Linked DNA regions of Homo sapiens: region 2 is linked to region 1. The links come from fine-mapping of genetic effects on gene expression. Tissue or cell type: whole blood. Region 1 holds a variant in brackets; the other region holds the start of a gene. All regions are shown on one strand. Distances are between the middles of the regions.

Region 1 (8,104 bases):
ACATCCAGGATTGTTCTAGATTTGGACTAGAGTGAAGAAAAAGCAAATCAATTGTTCTTTGATAATTTGATTTGTATTTATTGGACTTCTACTTTCATGTGTGTCCAAACAGGCTCAAGCTCTGCAGTGATAAGACTGACAGTGAATACTTCAATGATGTCTTTAAGAAAAACAATAATAAAACAGGGGAAAAAAGAAAGAACAAAACCATCTAGAAAGTGTCAACATTTTACTGTCTGCAGGGTTCGTCACAACAGTGCCAAATGACAAACTTACCACATTTAGTTGGATGAATTTTGCCCTGCAGAAGGATATCACCTTTTTTTTTTATAGGCAAACAGTTTATTTATTCATCCTCCTTCTCTTCCTCCCCATCTTCTTCATCTTCTTCTTCCATCTTTTCCCAGGCAACTTTAGCAGGACCTTTTGTGCCGTCCAACTTTCCTTTCGACTTATAGTCAGCAACATCCTTCTCATACTTCTTCAGCTTTGCCACCTTAGTGACATAAGGCTGCTTTTCACTGTCATTTAAGTTATTCCACATCTCACCCAGCTTTTTTGCCACGTCTCCAATAGAGATGCCAGGGTTTGTGGATTTGATCTTGGGGCAGAATTCTGAACAGAACAGGAAGAATCCAGACAGTGGCCTTTTGGGGGCATTAGGATCGTTCTTGCCTCCCTTAGCTGGTCCATAATCCTTCATTTCTCTATCACAGTGCACTTTATCCGCCTTTGCCATTTAATCGAATTTAGACTCTCTCTCTCTTTTTTTTTTTCTGAGATGGAGTTTTGCTCTTATTGCCCAGGCTGGAGTGCAGTGGCACGATCTCAGCTCACCGCAACCTCTGCCTCCTGGGTTCAAGCCATTCTCCTGCCTCAGCCTCCCCAGTAGCTGGGATTACAGGCGCCCACCAACACGCCCGGCTAGTTTTTTGTATTTTTAGTAGAGACGAGGTTTCACCATGTTGGCCAGGCTGGTCTCAAACTCCTTACCTCAGGTGATCCACCCAACTCACCCTCCCAAAGTGCTGAGATTACAGGCGTAAGCCGCCGTGCCCAGCCTAGACTTCTCTTTCCCAGACATTGTCTTCCACCTCTCAGAGCACTTTTTGGAAAATTCTGCAAAATTGACAGGGACCTCTGGATTTTTCTTATGCTCTTCTCTGCACGTCTGCACAAAGAAGGCAAAAGCAGACATCTTGCCCCTTAGTTTCCTGGGGTCACTTCTAGCCATCCTGACTGTATTGTTCACTAGTCTTGAAGGATATCACTTTTAAGTGGACACCATTCACATGACATTATAATTTGCAAATTTATTATGATAATTTACCAGTAGATGGCAGTAAAATGCCTTGTTATTTCAGAATCTGTTCGTTGTAACAATTTTCAGATATATGGAAATAAAATGCCTTGAGGAGGGGGTCACTTGTGCTTTGCATAAAGACATGCTATGGCGAGGCGCAGTGGCTCATGCCTGTAATCCCAGCACTTTCGGAGGTGGAGGTAGGTGGATTGTGTCAGCCCAGGAATTAGGGACCAGCCAGGGCAACATGGCAAAACCCCGTCTCTACAAAAAAATACAGAAATTAGCCAATCGTGGTGGTGCATCATGCCTGTAGTCCCAGCTCCATGGGAAGCTGAGATGGGAGGATCACTTGAGCCTGGGAAGCAGAGGTTGCAGTGAGCTGAGACTGCACCACTGCACTCCAGCCTGGATGACAGAGTGAGACTCTATCTCAAAAAAAAAAAAAAAAAAGCGGTGGTGGGGTGGGGGCTTACTATGGGCAAGCCATGGCTTGCTCTTCAGGAAAAAAATCATTGAAAAAATAGAAGAAATAGACTAATAATTACACAATTTTAAAAAGTGGAAGAATATCAAGTGACCATACATACACAAAAAGGTGGGGGTGGGGGAGAAAAAAAAAACTGTTTTCAAAAATATTCTGAAATTTTAAAGCTTTTTATTAGAGTATAATATAAAGACATAAAAGTACAGAAATCGTAAGTGTAAAGCCTGTTGAATTTCCACAAAGCCAACACACATGTCTAACAAACACCCAAATCAAGAAATAGAACATTCAGCCCCACAGAAGCCCCTTCCAGTCATTACCCACAGCCCCCAAGGTTAAACAGTATTTTAACTTCTAACTCCATAGATTAGTCTCACCAGGAGTTAAACTTACAGATTCATCTACATTGTTGCATGTAGTTGTAGCATGTTCATTTTCATTGCTGGGTAGCATTTCATTATTTATTTTTTATTTTTTTGAGACAGAGTCTTGCTCTGTCACCCAGGTTGGAGTGCAGTGGTGGGATCACAGGTCACTGCAGCCTTGACCTCCCAGGCTCAAGTAATCCTTCTGCCTCAGCCTCCCTAGTAGCTAGGACCACAGGTGCATGCCACTACACCATGCTAATTTTTGTATTTTTTGTAGAGACGGGGTTTCACCATGTTGCCCAGGTTGGTCTCAAACTCCTGGGCTCAAGTGATCCTCCCACCTCTGCCACCCAGAGTGCTGGGATTACAGATGTGAGCCACCACACCTGGCCAGCATTTTATTGTTTGAATACACCATAATTTATCCATTCTACTGTTAATGAGCATGTGGGTTTCCACTTAGGAGCTATTTTATTTTATTTTATTTATTTTTTTTAGAGATGGACTCTTGCTCTGTCACCCAGGCTGGGGTGCAGTAGTGCGATCTCGGCTCACTGCAACCTTCGCATCCCTGGTTCAAGCAATTCTCTGGCCTCAGCCTCCCGAGTAGCTAGGACTACAGGTGCACGCCACCATGCCCGGTTAATTTCTTTTGTATTTTTTAGTAGAGACAGGGTTTCACTGTGTTGCCCAGGCTGGTCTCGAACTCCTGAGCTCAGGCAATCTGCCTGCCTCGGCCTCCCAAAGTGCTAGGATTACAGGCGTGAGCCATCACGCCTGGCCAGAGCTTTTTTTGTTTTGTTTTGAGACAGAGTTTCGCTCTTGTTGCCCAGGCTGGAATGCAATGGCGTGATCTCGGCTCACTGCAACCTCTACCTCCTGGGTTCAAACGATTCTCCTACCTCAGCCTCCTGAGTAGCTGGGATCACAGGTGCCCACCACCATGCCCGGCTAATTTTTTATATTTTTAGTAGAGACAGGGTTTCTCCATGGTGGTCAGGCTGGTCTCAAACTCCCGACCTCAAGTGATCCGCCCACCTCGGCCTCCCAAAGTGCTGGGATTACAGGCGTGAGCCACCGCACCCGGGCCGGAGTTATTTTAAATTTTACTACTATGAACATTCTTGTGCATGTCTTTGGATGAACATGTGTACAATTTTTTGCTGGATAAAAACCTAGGACTAGGATTGCTGGGTCATAGAGTTTGCATTCAGCTCTTAGCTCATATTACCAAATCCTATGTCTTTTTAAAACAGTTTTATTGACAGGCTGGGCACGGTGGCTCATGCTTGTAATTCAAGCACCTTTGGAGGCTGAGGCGGGTGGATCACCTGAGGTCAGGAGTTTGAGACCAGCCTGGCCAACATGGTGAAACCCCATCTCTACTAAAAATACAAAAATTAGCTGGGCGTGGTGGCGGGTGCCTATAATCCCAGCTACTCGGGAGATTGAGGGAGGAGAATTGCTTGAACCTGGGAGGTGGAGGTAACAGTTAGCAGAGATCCCGCCATTCCATTCCAGCCTGGGTGACAAGAGTGAAACTCTGTCTCAAAACAAAAATCAAAAACAAACAAAAAACAATTTTCCAAAACAAAACAAAAAAACAGCTTTTGAGATATAATTGACATACTATACAATTTACTCATTTAAAGTGTATTATTCAGCCGGGTGTGTGGCTCAAGCCTATGATCCCAGCACTTTGGGAGGTTGAATCGGTTCGCTCACATATGTCCAGGAGTTCGAGACCAGGCTGGGTGACATGGTGAAACCCCATTTCTACCCAAAATACAAAAATTAGCCGGACGTGGTGCTTTATACCTGCAGTCCCAGCTATTGTGGAGACTGAGGTGGGAGGATCACTTGAGCCCAGGAGGCGGAGTTTGCAGTGAGCCAAGACTGCACTATTGTGCTCCAGCCTGGGCTACAAAGCCAGACCCTGTCTCAAAAAAAAAAAAAAAAAAAGTATAATTCTATGGTATTTAGTGTAGTCACAGATATGTGCAACCATCACCACAGTCAATTTTAGAACATTTTCATTGCCTCAGAAGAAACTCTATAATCTTTAGGTATCTCCCTCTCCCCAACCCCCCCATTCCCTCAGCCCTAAGGAATCACTAATTGACTTTGTCTCTGTCAGTTTGCCTATTATGGATACTTCATATAAATGGAATCATACAATATGTGACCTTTTGGCTTCTCTCACTTGGCACAATGTTTTCAAGGTTCATCCATATTGTAGCATGTATCAGTATCAGTACTTTATTCTTTTTCATAGCTGAATAACATAATATGTATTATTATGTGAATATACCACATTTTGTTATCTTTTTGTCTGTTGATGGACATTTGGGTTGTTTTTTACCTTTTGGTATTGTGAATAGTGATGCTATGAACATTCATGTACAAGTTTTTCTTTGAACACCTGTTTTCAGTGATTTGGGGTTTATGCCTGGGAATGGTATTGCTGGGTCGTATGGTAATTTGGTTTGTCTTATTAAAGAAATGCCAAACTGTTTTCCATAGCTGCTGTACCATTTTACATTTCCACCAACAACGTATGAAGATTCCACTTTTTCACATCCTGAGCAACATTTGTTATTTCCTTTTTAAAAAATTATTGTT[G/C]TGGGCGCACAGTGGCTCACACCTGTAATCCCAACACTTTGGGAGGCTGAGGCAGGAGGATTGCTTGAGGCCAGGAGTTTGAGACCAACCTGAGCCACATAGTAAGACTCCATCTCTATTTAAATAAAAGATAAAAAATAACATTTAAGTAAATAAACAAATAAAAATAATATTTATGGCCAGTCTAATTGTTGTGAAGTGGTATCTCATGGTGATTTTGACCTGTTTTAATCTACATTTCCCTAGTGATTATGATATTCAGCATCTTATCATAGACTTATCTTTGAAGAAATGTCTGTTGAAGCCCAGGCACAGTGACTTACACCTGTAATCCCAGCACTTTGGGAGGCCAAGATGGGAGGATTGCTTGAGTCCAAGAGTTCCAGACCAGCCTAGGCTGCATGGCAAAACCCCATCTCTACAAAAAATACAAAAATTAGCTGGGTGTGGTGACATGCACCTGTAGTCCCAGCTACTCAGGGGGCTGAGGTGGGAGAATCTCTTGAGCCTGGGAGGTGGAGGTTGCAGTGAGCCGAGATGGTGCCACTGCACTCCATCCTGGGTGACAGAGTGAGACTCTGTCTCAGAAAAAAAAAAAAAGTGTCCTTTTTGTTTTGTTTTGTTTTGAGGCAGGGTTTCACTCCTGTCACCCAGGCTGGAGTACAATGGCACGATCTCAACTCAGTGCAGCCTCGATCTCCTGGGTTCAAGGGATCTTCCTGCCTCAGCCTCCCCAGTAGCTGGGACTACAGGCACGTGCCACAGCACCCAGCTAATTTTTTATATTTTTGGTATATACAGGGTTTCACCATTTTGCCCAGGCTTGTCTTGAACTCCTGGACTCAAGCGATCTGCCCACCTTGGCCTCCTAAAGTATTGGGATTACAGGCATGAGCCACTGAACCCTGCCAAGAAATGTCTATTGAAGTCCTTTGCCCATATTTTAATTGAGTTGTTTGTCTTTATGTTGTTGAAGTGTTTTTAATATATTCTGGGTACTATATAAAGTACTCAGATCAGATATAAGATTGCAAATACTTTTCACATTTTTTGGACTGTCTTTTCACTCAAGATTGTCCTTTTATGTACAAAACTTTTTAATTTCAATGACATCCAATTATCTATGTTTGCTTTTGTTGCTGTGCTTTCGGTGCCACATCTAAGAAACCATTTGCCAAATCCAAGGTATGAGGATTTACCCCTATGTTTCCTTCTAAGAGTTTTATAGTTTTAGCTCTTATATTTGTGTCTTTGATCCATTTTGAGTTACTTTTTGTATGTGGTGTGAGGCAAGGTTCAAACTTCATTTTGTGTATGTGAATATGTTAAAGAGAATATTCCTTCTTCATTGAATGATCTTGGCACCCTAGTTGAGATCAATTGGCCATAGATATATTGATTTATTTCTGGACTATCAATTATGTTCCATTGATATGTTTATCCTTATACCTACCACACTGTTTTGATTACTTTGTAGTAAGTTTTAAAATCGGGAAATGTGTGTCCTCCAACATTGTTCTTTTTCAAGATTGTTTTGGCTATTCTGAGTCCCTTGCAATTAATTCCATATGAATTTTAGGATCATCCATATTCATTTCTGCAATAAAGTGCTGCTGGAATTTCCATACAGATTGCATTGAATCTGTAGATCAATTGGGAAGTATTGTCATCTTAACAAAATTAAATCTTTCGATTCATAAACACAGAATGTCTTTACATTTATTTAGGTCTTCTTTCATTTCTTTCGACAATGTTTTATAGTTTTAATTTTTATACTTCTTTTATAAAATTTATTCCTAAGTATTTTATTCTTTCTGATGCTTCAGTAAATGGAATTGTTTTCTTTCTTTTTTCTTTTTCTTTTCTTTTTTTTTTTTTAAGGGTCTCACTCTATCACCTAGGCTGGAGTGCAGCGGCGCCATCAATCCACCTTCTGGCCTCAAGCTATTCTCCCACCTCAGCCTCCCGAGGAGCTGGGACTATAGGCACACACCACCACTGTCAGTTAATTTTTGTAGAGACAAAGTTTCACCATGTTGCCCAGGCTGGTCTCCAACTCCTAGGCTCCAGCAATCCTCCAGCCTCAGTCTCCCAAAGTGTTGCAATTCCAGGTGGGAGCCACTGTGCCTGGCCAGAATTGTTTTCTTAATTTCATTTACAGGTTGTTTATTGCAAGTGTACAGAAACTTTATACTGATCTTGTATTAGCAATCTTGCTGAACTCCTTTGTTAGCTGTCATTGTTTTCATTGATTTCTTAGGATTTTTTGTATACAAGATCATGCCATCTGCAAATAAAAATAGTTTTACTTTTTACTTTCCAATCTGGAGGCCTTTTACTTCTGTATCTTGCCTAATTGCCCTGACTAGAACATCCAATACAATATTGAATAGAAGTAGCAAGAATGGGTATGCTCTAATCTTAGTGGGAAAGCATCCAATCTTTAACTATTAAGTATGATGTTAACTGAGGGTTTTTTATATTTGCCTTTTATCATGTTGAAGAAGTTCCCTTCTATTCCTGGTTTGCTGAGTGTTTTTTGTTTGTTTGTTATCATGAAGGGGTGGTAGGATTTTGTCAGATGCCTTTTCTGCATCTATTGAGATGATCATGTGTTGTTTTTTATTCTACCAAAAAAATATAATGCAATACTTGATTTTTGAAAGTAAACCAAGCTTGAATTCCTGGAATGTATCCCACTGAGGCAGTGTATACTTCTTTTTATATGTTGTTGGCTAGTATTTTGTTGAGTATGTTACATCCATGTTCATAAAAGAATATTGGTCTGTAGTTTTCTTATTAGGTCTTATTTTGTTGGATTTTAATTTCAAGGTAAAACTAGCCTCACAGAATAAACTAGAAAGCGTTTCTTCCTCTTCTATTTATTGAAAGCTTTTTTTATAGAATTGGTATTAATTTTTTTCAATGTTTTGTAGAAATCACTAGTGAGGCCGTCTGAGACCTGGGCTTTTCTTTGTAAGTAGTTTGCTTTTTAGTATATATTACTAATCTCTTTATTTGTTATGTATCTCCTCAGATTGTCTATTTCTTCTTGAGTCAGTTTTGGTATGTGTCTTTCTAGGAAATTTTATGTTTCATCTAAGTTATCTGATTTATTAACATACAGTTGTTCATAGTATTTCTTTGTGATCCTTTTTTATTTCTGTAAGATTGTAAGTACTGTCCCATCTTTAATTTCTGATTCTAGTAATTTCGAGTCTTCTTTTTTTCTTGATCAATCTGGGACAGGTTTGTCAATTTTGTTGATTTTTTCAAAGAGCCAGGATTTGGTTTTATTGATTTTCTCTATTGTTTTTCTATTCT
Region 2 (8,088 bases), 840 kb before region 1:
CAGTGCTCTCCACTCCCTATTGTCTCATGCCTAACCTTCTTTCTAGCCCCTGTAGACACCTGAGGGTTTGCTGTTGTTGTTATTTGTTTTGAGAAGGGTCTCACTCTGTTGCCTAGGCTGGATGCAGTGGTGTGAGCATGTCTCACTGTAGCCTTGGCCTCCTGGGCTCAAGTGATCCTCTGGCCTCAGCCTCCCAAGTAGCTGGAAGTACAGGCACATGCTACCATGCCAGCTAATTAAAATTTTTTTTTTTGTAGAGACAGGGTCTCACTATGTTGCCCAAGCTGGTCTCAAACTCCTGGGTTCAAGCAATCCTCCTGCCTCAGCCTCCCAGAATTCTGGGATTAAAGGAATGAGCCACTGTGCCCGGCATGACATTTGAGTTTTTGATCCATGCTGATGACATGGCAATGGGAGGCTATTGAAGGTTGTTTTTTGTTTTTCTGTTTTTGAGGCGGAGTCTCTCTCTGTGTCTCAGGCTGGAGTGCAGTGGCATGATCTCGGCTCACTGCAACCTCCACCTCCCAGGTTCAAGCGATTACCCCACCTCAGCCTCCTGAGTAGCTGGGATTACAGGTGCCTGCCACCACGCCCGGTTAATTTTTATATTTTTAGTAGAGATGGGGTTTCACCATGTTGCCCAGGCCGGTCTTGAACTCCTGACCTCAAGTAATCCCCCCCACCTCGGTCTCCCAAAGTACTGGGATTACAGGCGTGAGTTACCGCGCCCAGCCCATTGAAGGGTTTTGAGCAGAGAAGGAATGATGAGAGTTGGGCAGTAAGTAATGTATTGGTTGGGGGTAACTCTGGGGCAGGTGTAGTGAAAATCTATTATTCAATCTGCCCCAGAGCATGAACTCCATCTTTTGGGAAATGCATCTTTCTCTGACCATATGGTTCCGATGGGGCTGCCATCTCCCTGTACGTCCCACTTCCTTATTCACAGTATTGGTTAGAGAATGGCACCTGGCTTAAGTTGGGCCAGTCACAGCACCTGGTTTTCCACCCATAGATGATTGGTCTAGGGACGGGGACTTACCTATGTTGGACCAATCAAAGTTTTTCCCTAAAATTTTGTCCTTCAGACCAGAAGCAGAAATCCTCAGTCTCTCTCCGGTGGAACGGGTGAGAGTTGTGAGTGGTGAGCGCTGCTGCAGCCAGGTGCCTAGCCTTGAGGAGAAAAGCTCGCATACAGAGAGAAGAGATAAAGGACTGGGAGGAGAGTCCTGGCAACATTCAAGCCTCTGCGCTCACCACTTCAGTGCATTTTCTGAGCCTGGTTCTCCAGCCTTCCCATCAGTTCTGGGAGCTCCCCATTCCTTCCTGATAAATTCCTTTGCTGCATCTGTTAGTCTGAGTTTATTTATGTTTCGTAATTTGCAACCGAGAACACTGGTGATAACCGGGGGCTTTGAGGCAATTCCAGGAGGGCTACTTCTCACCCCCGTCAGGGAGGAGCCAAGACAGGGTTTATCCTCAAATGCAGATCCCCTGAGGTCAGGAGTTAGAGCCCAGCTTGGCCAACATGATGAAACCCCGTATCCACTGAAAATACAAAAATTAGCCGGGCATGGTGGTACACGCCTGTAATCCCAGCTACTTGGGAGGCTGAGGTACAAGAATCGCTTTGAACCCAGGAGGCAGAGGTTGCAGAGAGCCGAGATCGTGCCACTGCACTCCAGCCTAGGCGACAGAGCTAGACTCCGCCTCAAAAAACACACAAACAATGAACAGACAAATAAATGACAGAACAAGAAGACAAACTAGAGAACATCTTGAGACAAGGTGTTCAGGGAAGAGTTCTTTTGAGAAGGTGATATTAAAGCGAGTTTGGGGAAGAACGTCCCAGGCCTTGCGCTCAGGGTCGTCAACTCTTTGATTTCTCTTCCTTTTGAAGCAGGGCAGGGAGGTCATCAAACAACAGAAGGACAATTATAACTGCTGGTATGGCAAAGCCAGGACTCTGAATTCAAACTCTGCTCCATTCTCAGGAATCCCGTCTGTTAAGCAGGTTCTGGGGAAGCGATGTGAGTCATGAAATCACAGGTCGGAGGAGGCATCGAGAATATGGTCAGTTCTCAACTTTCAGGGAAATCCATAGCTGAGGAATGAAGGACAACGGGCTTCTCGTGCTCTCACTAGGAAGACTGGTTCACCGGAGGCTGGAACACTGAAAGTGAGAAATCCCGACAGGAGAAATGTGTAGGAGAGAGGACTAGCACCTGGATCAAGTTATAAAACATCTCCTGCATCTTTTTCGGAGATCACCCTTAGCGCGGCCTCTCCGCCCAGTCCCAGATTAGGCAGCGAAGAGCGACCCTCACCTTGTCTAGGTGGCACGTTCCTTAAAAGCGAAAGGACCAGGAGTTTCTTCCTGCCTCGTCTCTTCCGGATCCCTCCTGCACCGCCCACAGCCTGCAGATTTGAGCGCCATCTCCAGGCCCCGCCCACCTCAAGCACCACCCCTCAGTCCTTCCTTGGGGCACGCCTCCTTCCGGCACCCGCCCAGAGTAGCCACCCCCGGGGCCCCTCCTCCCCTCCCTGCTTCCGGGCCCGCCTCCTTCAGGCCCGCTTCCATCTTCCTCCCACTCTAAGCTTCTCTTCAGCCCCGCCTCCCTCCACCCGTGGCTCCGCCCTCTGGGCGATTCTCCATTTAGCCCCGCCCACAGCATCTCCTTTCAAGCGCTGTCCTGGTTCCCGGCTCTCCATCTCCTGCACGGCCTTCCCCACTGGTCCGGCGACCCTCTTCCCAGGGCCTCATCACCATCTTAGCTCCGCCCCTACTTCGGCTCCAAACCTGTGCAAGCTGCCCTCTTCCCGCCCCAGCCCCGCCTCCCCAAGCCGCGTCTCAGTCCCTCCTCCCTTTCAGGCCCCACCCTGGCCCCGCCTTCCTCCCGTCCCCGCCGAAGCTCTGGACCTTTCCAAAGCCAGGCTGAGAGGGTGGGGAGAGCCCATGCGCCTGGGAAGCCGGGCTGTTTCTGGGCGGGGCTGCAGACTCCTCGTGCTCGTGTCACCGTGTCCTTCCCAGGAGACAGAGAAGGAGGAGAGCCCGGAACCAGGGCCGGAGCGGCGGGCGGAGCCGAGCTGCGGGGAGCCGCTCCGGGTGCCCCCACCCCCGCGCGCCTCAGTGGTGCCGGCCGAGGGCAGGGCTCGCGGTTGCGGGGCTCGCGCCGCTGTCAGTGCGGCGGGGCGCGCGAGCGGCGCCAGCTCGGGGCAGCGGAACCCAGAGAAGCTGAGGGGGCGGTAGCGGCGGCGACGGCGACGACGACGACTCCCGCGCGTGTGCCCAGCCTCTTCCCGCCGCAGCCGCCCTTTTCCTCCCTCCCTTACGTCCCCGAGTGCGGCAGTACCGCCTCCTTCCCAGCCGCGCGGCTTCCTCCAGACCTCTCGGCGCGGGTGAGTGGGGACTGCGGGCGTCTCCTTAGGGGTGCGGGGAGGGTGTGTGCTTTGTGCCTTTCCGTTCACTCACTTCTTCCGGCAGGCCGCTGCCTATTTTTAGAAACTTATTTCTGCCCTTCGGGGAGTCCCGGGAGCCCGAGTAACTCTAGGCCCCCTCCGCCGCTCCTTTCTCCCACTCGGACCCGCCGCCCCGGGTCCCCGGCCCCAGCCCTCCGCGCCCGGTCCTGCTCCCGGCGTTCCCTGTCTGCTCTCTCCGCGGGCCAAGTCTGGGCCAGTAGTTGGCTGGGTGGGCCCGCGCCCGCTCGGAAGTTGGAGTCTTTTGTGCTCGTGCCCCGCCCCGCCCGGCGAGGGGCGGAGGGAGGGGAACGGAGGCTGCTCCGGGGAGGCCGCAGGCGGGCCCGGCCGCGGCTGCTTCCGGCTCTCCTAACCCGGACTGGGTCTACGGGCTCCCGGAGGCGCGCAGAGCTTGTCCTGCCTCGGCTCCCGCCTCTTCTGGGCTCTTTGCACGCCTTGGGCTCGGAGAGAAACAACAACGGGCCCTCGAACTGGGGCCGTATCCGCGTTTCACTCAGCCTCCTTGGCGGCCGAGTCTTAGTTTGCCTCTCGGTGACATGGGGGGAAAGAAGGAAACTCGCTTTGCGGGGTGTTCGTGGATTCAGGGAGGGAACTAATATGTGAAAGAAGTGTTTAACACCGACAGGGAACATTTAATGAGACTTCACCCAGGAACTTCCCAAGCCTTATTTCATTTAATGTTCACAACGGCCTTCTGGTTTATCCTCATTTACAAAAGCAGAAATTAAGGCGCAGAGGGGTCAAGTAATTTTCTCCAAGTCACAGTAGCCACAGAAGTGCAAAGGAGTGGTGCCAGTACCTATTATTTATTAATATTTCCTGGTGTGAGCATGTATCATCTCTTAGTGCAGAGGGTATTTTTACCTAGCCTTGGGTCACACCATTTAATTAGGGGCATAACTCTGGGTTTTCCCTGACTTCTGGGCCGTTGTCCACTATACTGTGGATGAAATCCCATTCTGGGGTTACCATAGTTCTAAAGGGAAAGGTTTGGATGAATTCCTTGCTAGTGTTGCGGCAGTTAGAAGTTGATGGATGCAGACTCCAGGTCTCAGACACAACTCAAATTCCCTGGGGTTTTGGCTCAAGGAAGCTTTGAGACTGTAAACGGTGGGATCCACCCTTTAGTTTGTGTGTGGTGTGTTCCTCCTCCCAGACCTTGCAGGTTCTCTGTGTTTAGATTTATCGATCCTAGTTTGATGGGGGTTAGGGGGAGTAGCTCAAGTCATCTGCCTTCAAACAAATATTACTCCTATTTTCAGATAAGGCCCAGAGTGGTTAAAGTGAACTAAAATTAACTTTGGCAAATGTTCCAGTTTTTCAATGTGATCCGGTTGGAGGGAGTGTCTAAAAATCAGGCAAGGGAGTTTCTGGGCCAGGTCTTGAGGAGTCTCTTGATGTTCACATTAGTTCTTTGGAGTCTGGTACGTCTGTGGTGCCTGGCCAGGATTCTGGATTTACGAGTCCTATGTGGGAGCTGAAAGGGGTCTTACCATCTGGTCCAACTTTTTCATATCTGCCTTTCCCCGCTTCCCTGTTAACTGAACCTTGGAAAGGGGAAGTAAGTTGTCTGAATTCAGACTGCCTTAGTGTCAGAGTGAGAACTAAAATTTCCAGTCTTCTTCCTCCTAATCCAGTAATATTTTTATTTCTCCCATACCTTGCCACTTCTTAAAAGGGCACGAAACCACTTATTCAGGTCTTAAGGTCAGGAATCCTGAGTAATTGGAAATCCCAAGGAAGTTTTATAGTCCCCACCCCTTTCTGTGCCTTATGGTTAGTATTAAGAGGAGGCCAGGTTTAAGCACAGGTGTACTAGTTCTCGTAAGTCACCACTTCGGTTTTATGTGTTTATGGCTTATATACTCTTCCATAACCATTATCTGATTTAATTTCTAATCCATTTCTGTGAGGTAGTTTGCAGAGCTTGGTTTATGTCTCTTTTTTTACTGTGAGGGAATGGAGACACAGCATAGCACTTGCCTTAGATGACAGAATGAGTAAGTAGTGAGGACAAGACACCTCTCTGGAGCAGAGGATTTGATTTGACATCATAAACTGAGCCACTCATTGTGGCTCTCTGAGCCTCAGTTTCCTTATCTGTAAACTCATAGGGTTGTTGTGGGGATTGTTAAGAAAATGGCTATGAAAGTGCTTTATAGTGGTAGTAATAATAGCTAAATTTATTAAGTACTTAACGTGTACCACCAGTCAATGGACTGAGGACTTTATGGACTATATTACTAATTCTTAGAGCAACCTATGAATTAAGTACTATTATTATCCCTGTTTTATAGAAGAAACAGGCTTAGAGAGGTTACATTACCTGCCTCAGGGTCATGTAACTGGTAAGTGGCCATGGCAGTATTCAGACTGCAGACAGTATAACCTTAAAGCTGGCATGCTTTTTTTAAAAAAAAAATTGTGGTAAAATATATATAACATAAAATTTACCATTTAACCGTTTCAAAGTGTACATTTATGTGACATTAAATACATTCGCATGGTTATGCAACCATCATCACTGTCCATTATCTTCCCCAACTGAAATTCTGTACCCATTAAACTAACTCCCCCTTCCCTCCTCCCTCCAGCCCCTGAAAACTATCGTTCTACTTTCTGTGAATTTGACTACTCTAGGAACCTCATGTAAGTGGAATCATGCAATATTTGTCCTTTTGTGCCTGCAAAGCTGGCACACTTAGTGTCTTCTTTAGTCTCAGAGTGCATTGTAAATGCAAAATTATTAGTCCTCACCTGCAGCAGAGATGTGGCATGCAGCTCCAGGGCAGGAACCCAGGCCTCTCTGAGTAAGACCTACTTTTCTCCCCCTTAGGTTGATGTTCTGTATCACTGAAGCCTGTTTTGAATCTCTGCTGGCCCCCCAGTATCTGCAGAAGAGACCTTATACCCTGTTTTTTTTGGAGACGGAGTCTCACTCCGTCGCCCAGGCTGGATTGCGGTGGCACGATCTTGGCTCCCTGCAACCTCAACCTCCTGGGTTCAAGGGATCTCTTGCCTCAGCCTCCCGAGTAGCTGGGACTACAGGCATGCACCATCACGCCTGGGTAATTTTTGTATTTTTAGTACAGATAGGGTTTCACCACGTTGGCCAGGCTGGCTTCGAACTCCTGAACCTCAGGTGATCCTCCTGTCTTGGCCTTCCAAAGTGCTGGGATTACAGGCATGAGCCACCACGCCAGGCTATTACACCCTTAAAATAGAACCGAGATAACTCCCCACCCTCACCTTGTTTGCACCTGCCCTTCTGACAGTCCAGGGTTTGGGGATATTGGGCTGCAGTTATCAGGAATAACAGTGCAGTGACAGCAGCTTGGATCAAAACTACTCAGAATGATTAAGTAGATCACCTTTATGAAATGTTCCCTCTTTCTTCCCCCTTTTTCCATAGAGGCACACAGGAGGGATTAGCTTTTGGGTTCTTGGAGGATGTTTATGGATACTCACTGCTTGCAGTTGGTTAAGATGGAGTTAGATGCTGCATATAGCCTTTCAAAATGCCCTTTGACCGTTTTCTGTGTTGGTCCATTTAGGGGAGTGGGCTCTTCATGTTTATGAAGATGGTTGGAATATTGTCCTGATAACAACTGGGGGTTGGGAGAGGCAGTGTCTCAGAGATGGTTAATAGGGTAACAAACACATGATCATGTGTCTGGTCATGTCACACTCTCCTTAAAAATCTGATGGCCCCAACATTGCCTGCATATTAAAGTTCAAACAAATATGACCCATGAGGTCAGTGTGTTGAATTTATTGAATAGAATCTTGTAGTTGAGGGACCTTACAGTCATTTAGACCAGCCACCTGGCTGACATTTGAGTTGGTTACTTGTTGAGATTGTCTTTCTTTGGATACCTCATTTTTGGAAAGTTTTTCATTCACTGAAGAATTAATGAGCCTCTGTTAGACCTGGTGCTACGCTTAGGGATTTGGGTTTGTATAGCGTAGTGGGAAAGATAGGCAAGGAAACAGGCAGTGTGAGAAGTGTTGTCACAGGGACAGACACCAGGAGAGCACAGAAAAATGATGCCTAACCCAGCATTGGAAGGTCAGGGAAGGCTTTTTAGGAGGAGAAGTTGGTTAAGCCTAGCCCTCAAGAGAACAGACATAAGCCAGGAAAAGAAGAGATCTGGGGAGTCAGGGAAGAGGCAGAGATAAGACTGTTCTAGGTAGAAGGAACAGTAAGTTCAGAAATGGTGATAATAGGTTAAGACCATCCCGAAAGTACGTACTGTTACTATTCCCATTCTGTAGTTGAAGGAAACGGGCCAAGAGAGCTAAACAAATTTCTCAGGATTCTTGGGTGGAGCATAATGCTTGAGGTGGGTGGATATGGCCAGACAGGAGACTTTCAAGGTAGGCAGAGCAGAGGCCAAGTCAGGAAAGGGCCTTCTTGCCTGTGTTGAGGAGTTTGGACTTCATCCGGAGGTGAGGGGGCCATGATTCAATGTGCATTTTGGAAGGATATCTCTGGCTGCCTGTTCAGGAGCGGACTGGAGAGCTAGAACACTGTGGGCAGAGAGACCAGTTAGGAGGTTGGCAAGAGGTGATGGTGTTTCAAATGAAGGTTGTGGGAGAGCGTGTGCAAGAGTG

What was found. PIP is the estimated chance that this variant, and not a neighbour inherited with it, causes the effect.
Region 2: RALY starts here. The variant in region 1 is fine-mapped to the expression of RALY in whole blood (INTERVAL, PIP 0.93).

Annotation. Positions count from the first base shown.
Region 1 is chr20:34,833,229-34,841,332 of GRCh38, forward strand. It overlaps the pseudogene HMGB3P1. Among named protein-coding and RNA genes, the nearest start is that of NCOA6, 12 kb to the left of the region's middle. The variant G/C (reference allele first, on the strand shown) is at 4,781.
Region 2 is chr20:33,990,736-33,998,823 of GRCh38, forward strand. It overlaps RALY (RALY heterogeneous nuclear ribonucleoprotein), which reads left to right and starts at 3,176. Exons shown (of 10, transcript NM_016732.3): 1 at 3,176-3,396. It overlaps RALY-AS1 (RALY antisense RNA 1), which reads right to left and starts at 3,632. Exons shown (of 2, transcript NR_109886.1): 1 at 3,470-3,632; 2 at 1,753-2,170. RefSeq lists enhancers at 2,077-2,156, 2,093-2,619, 8,056-8,088 and silencers at 2,397-2,646, 2,817-2,926, 3,107-3,236, 3,297-3,346, 3,567-3,896.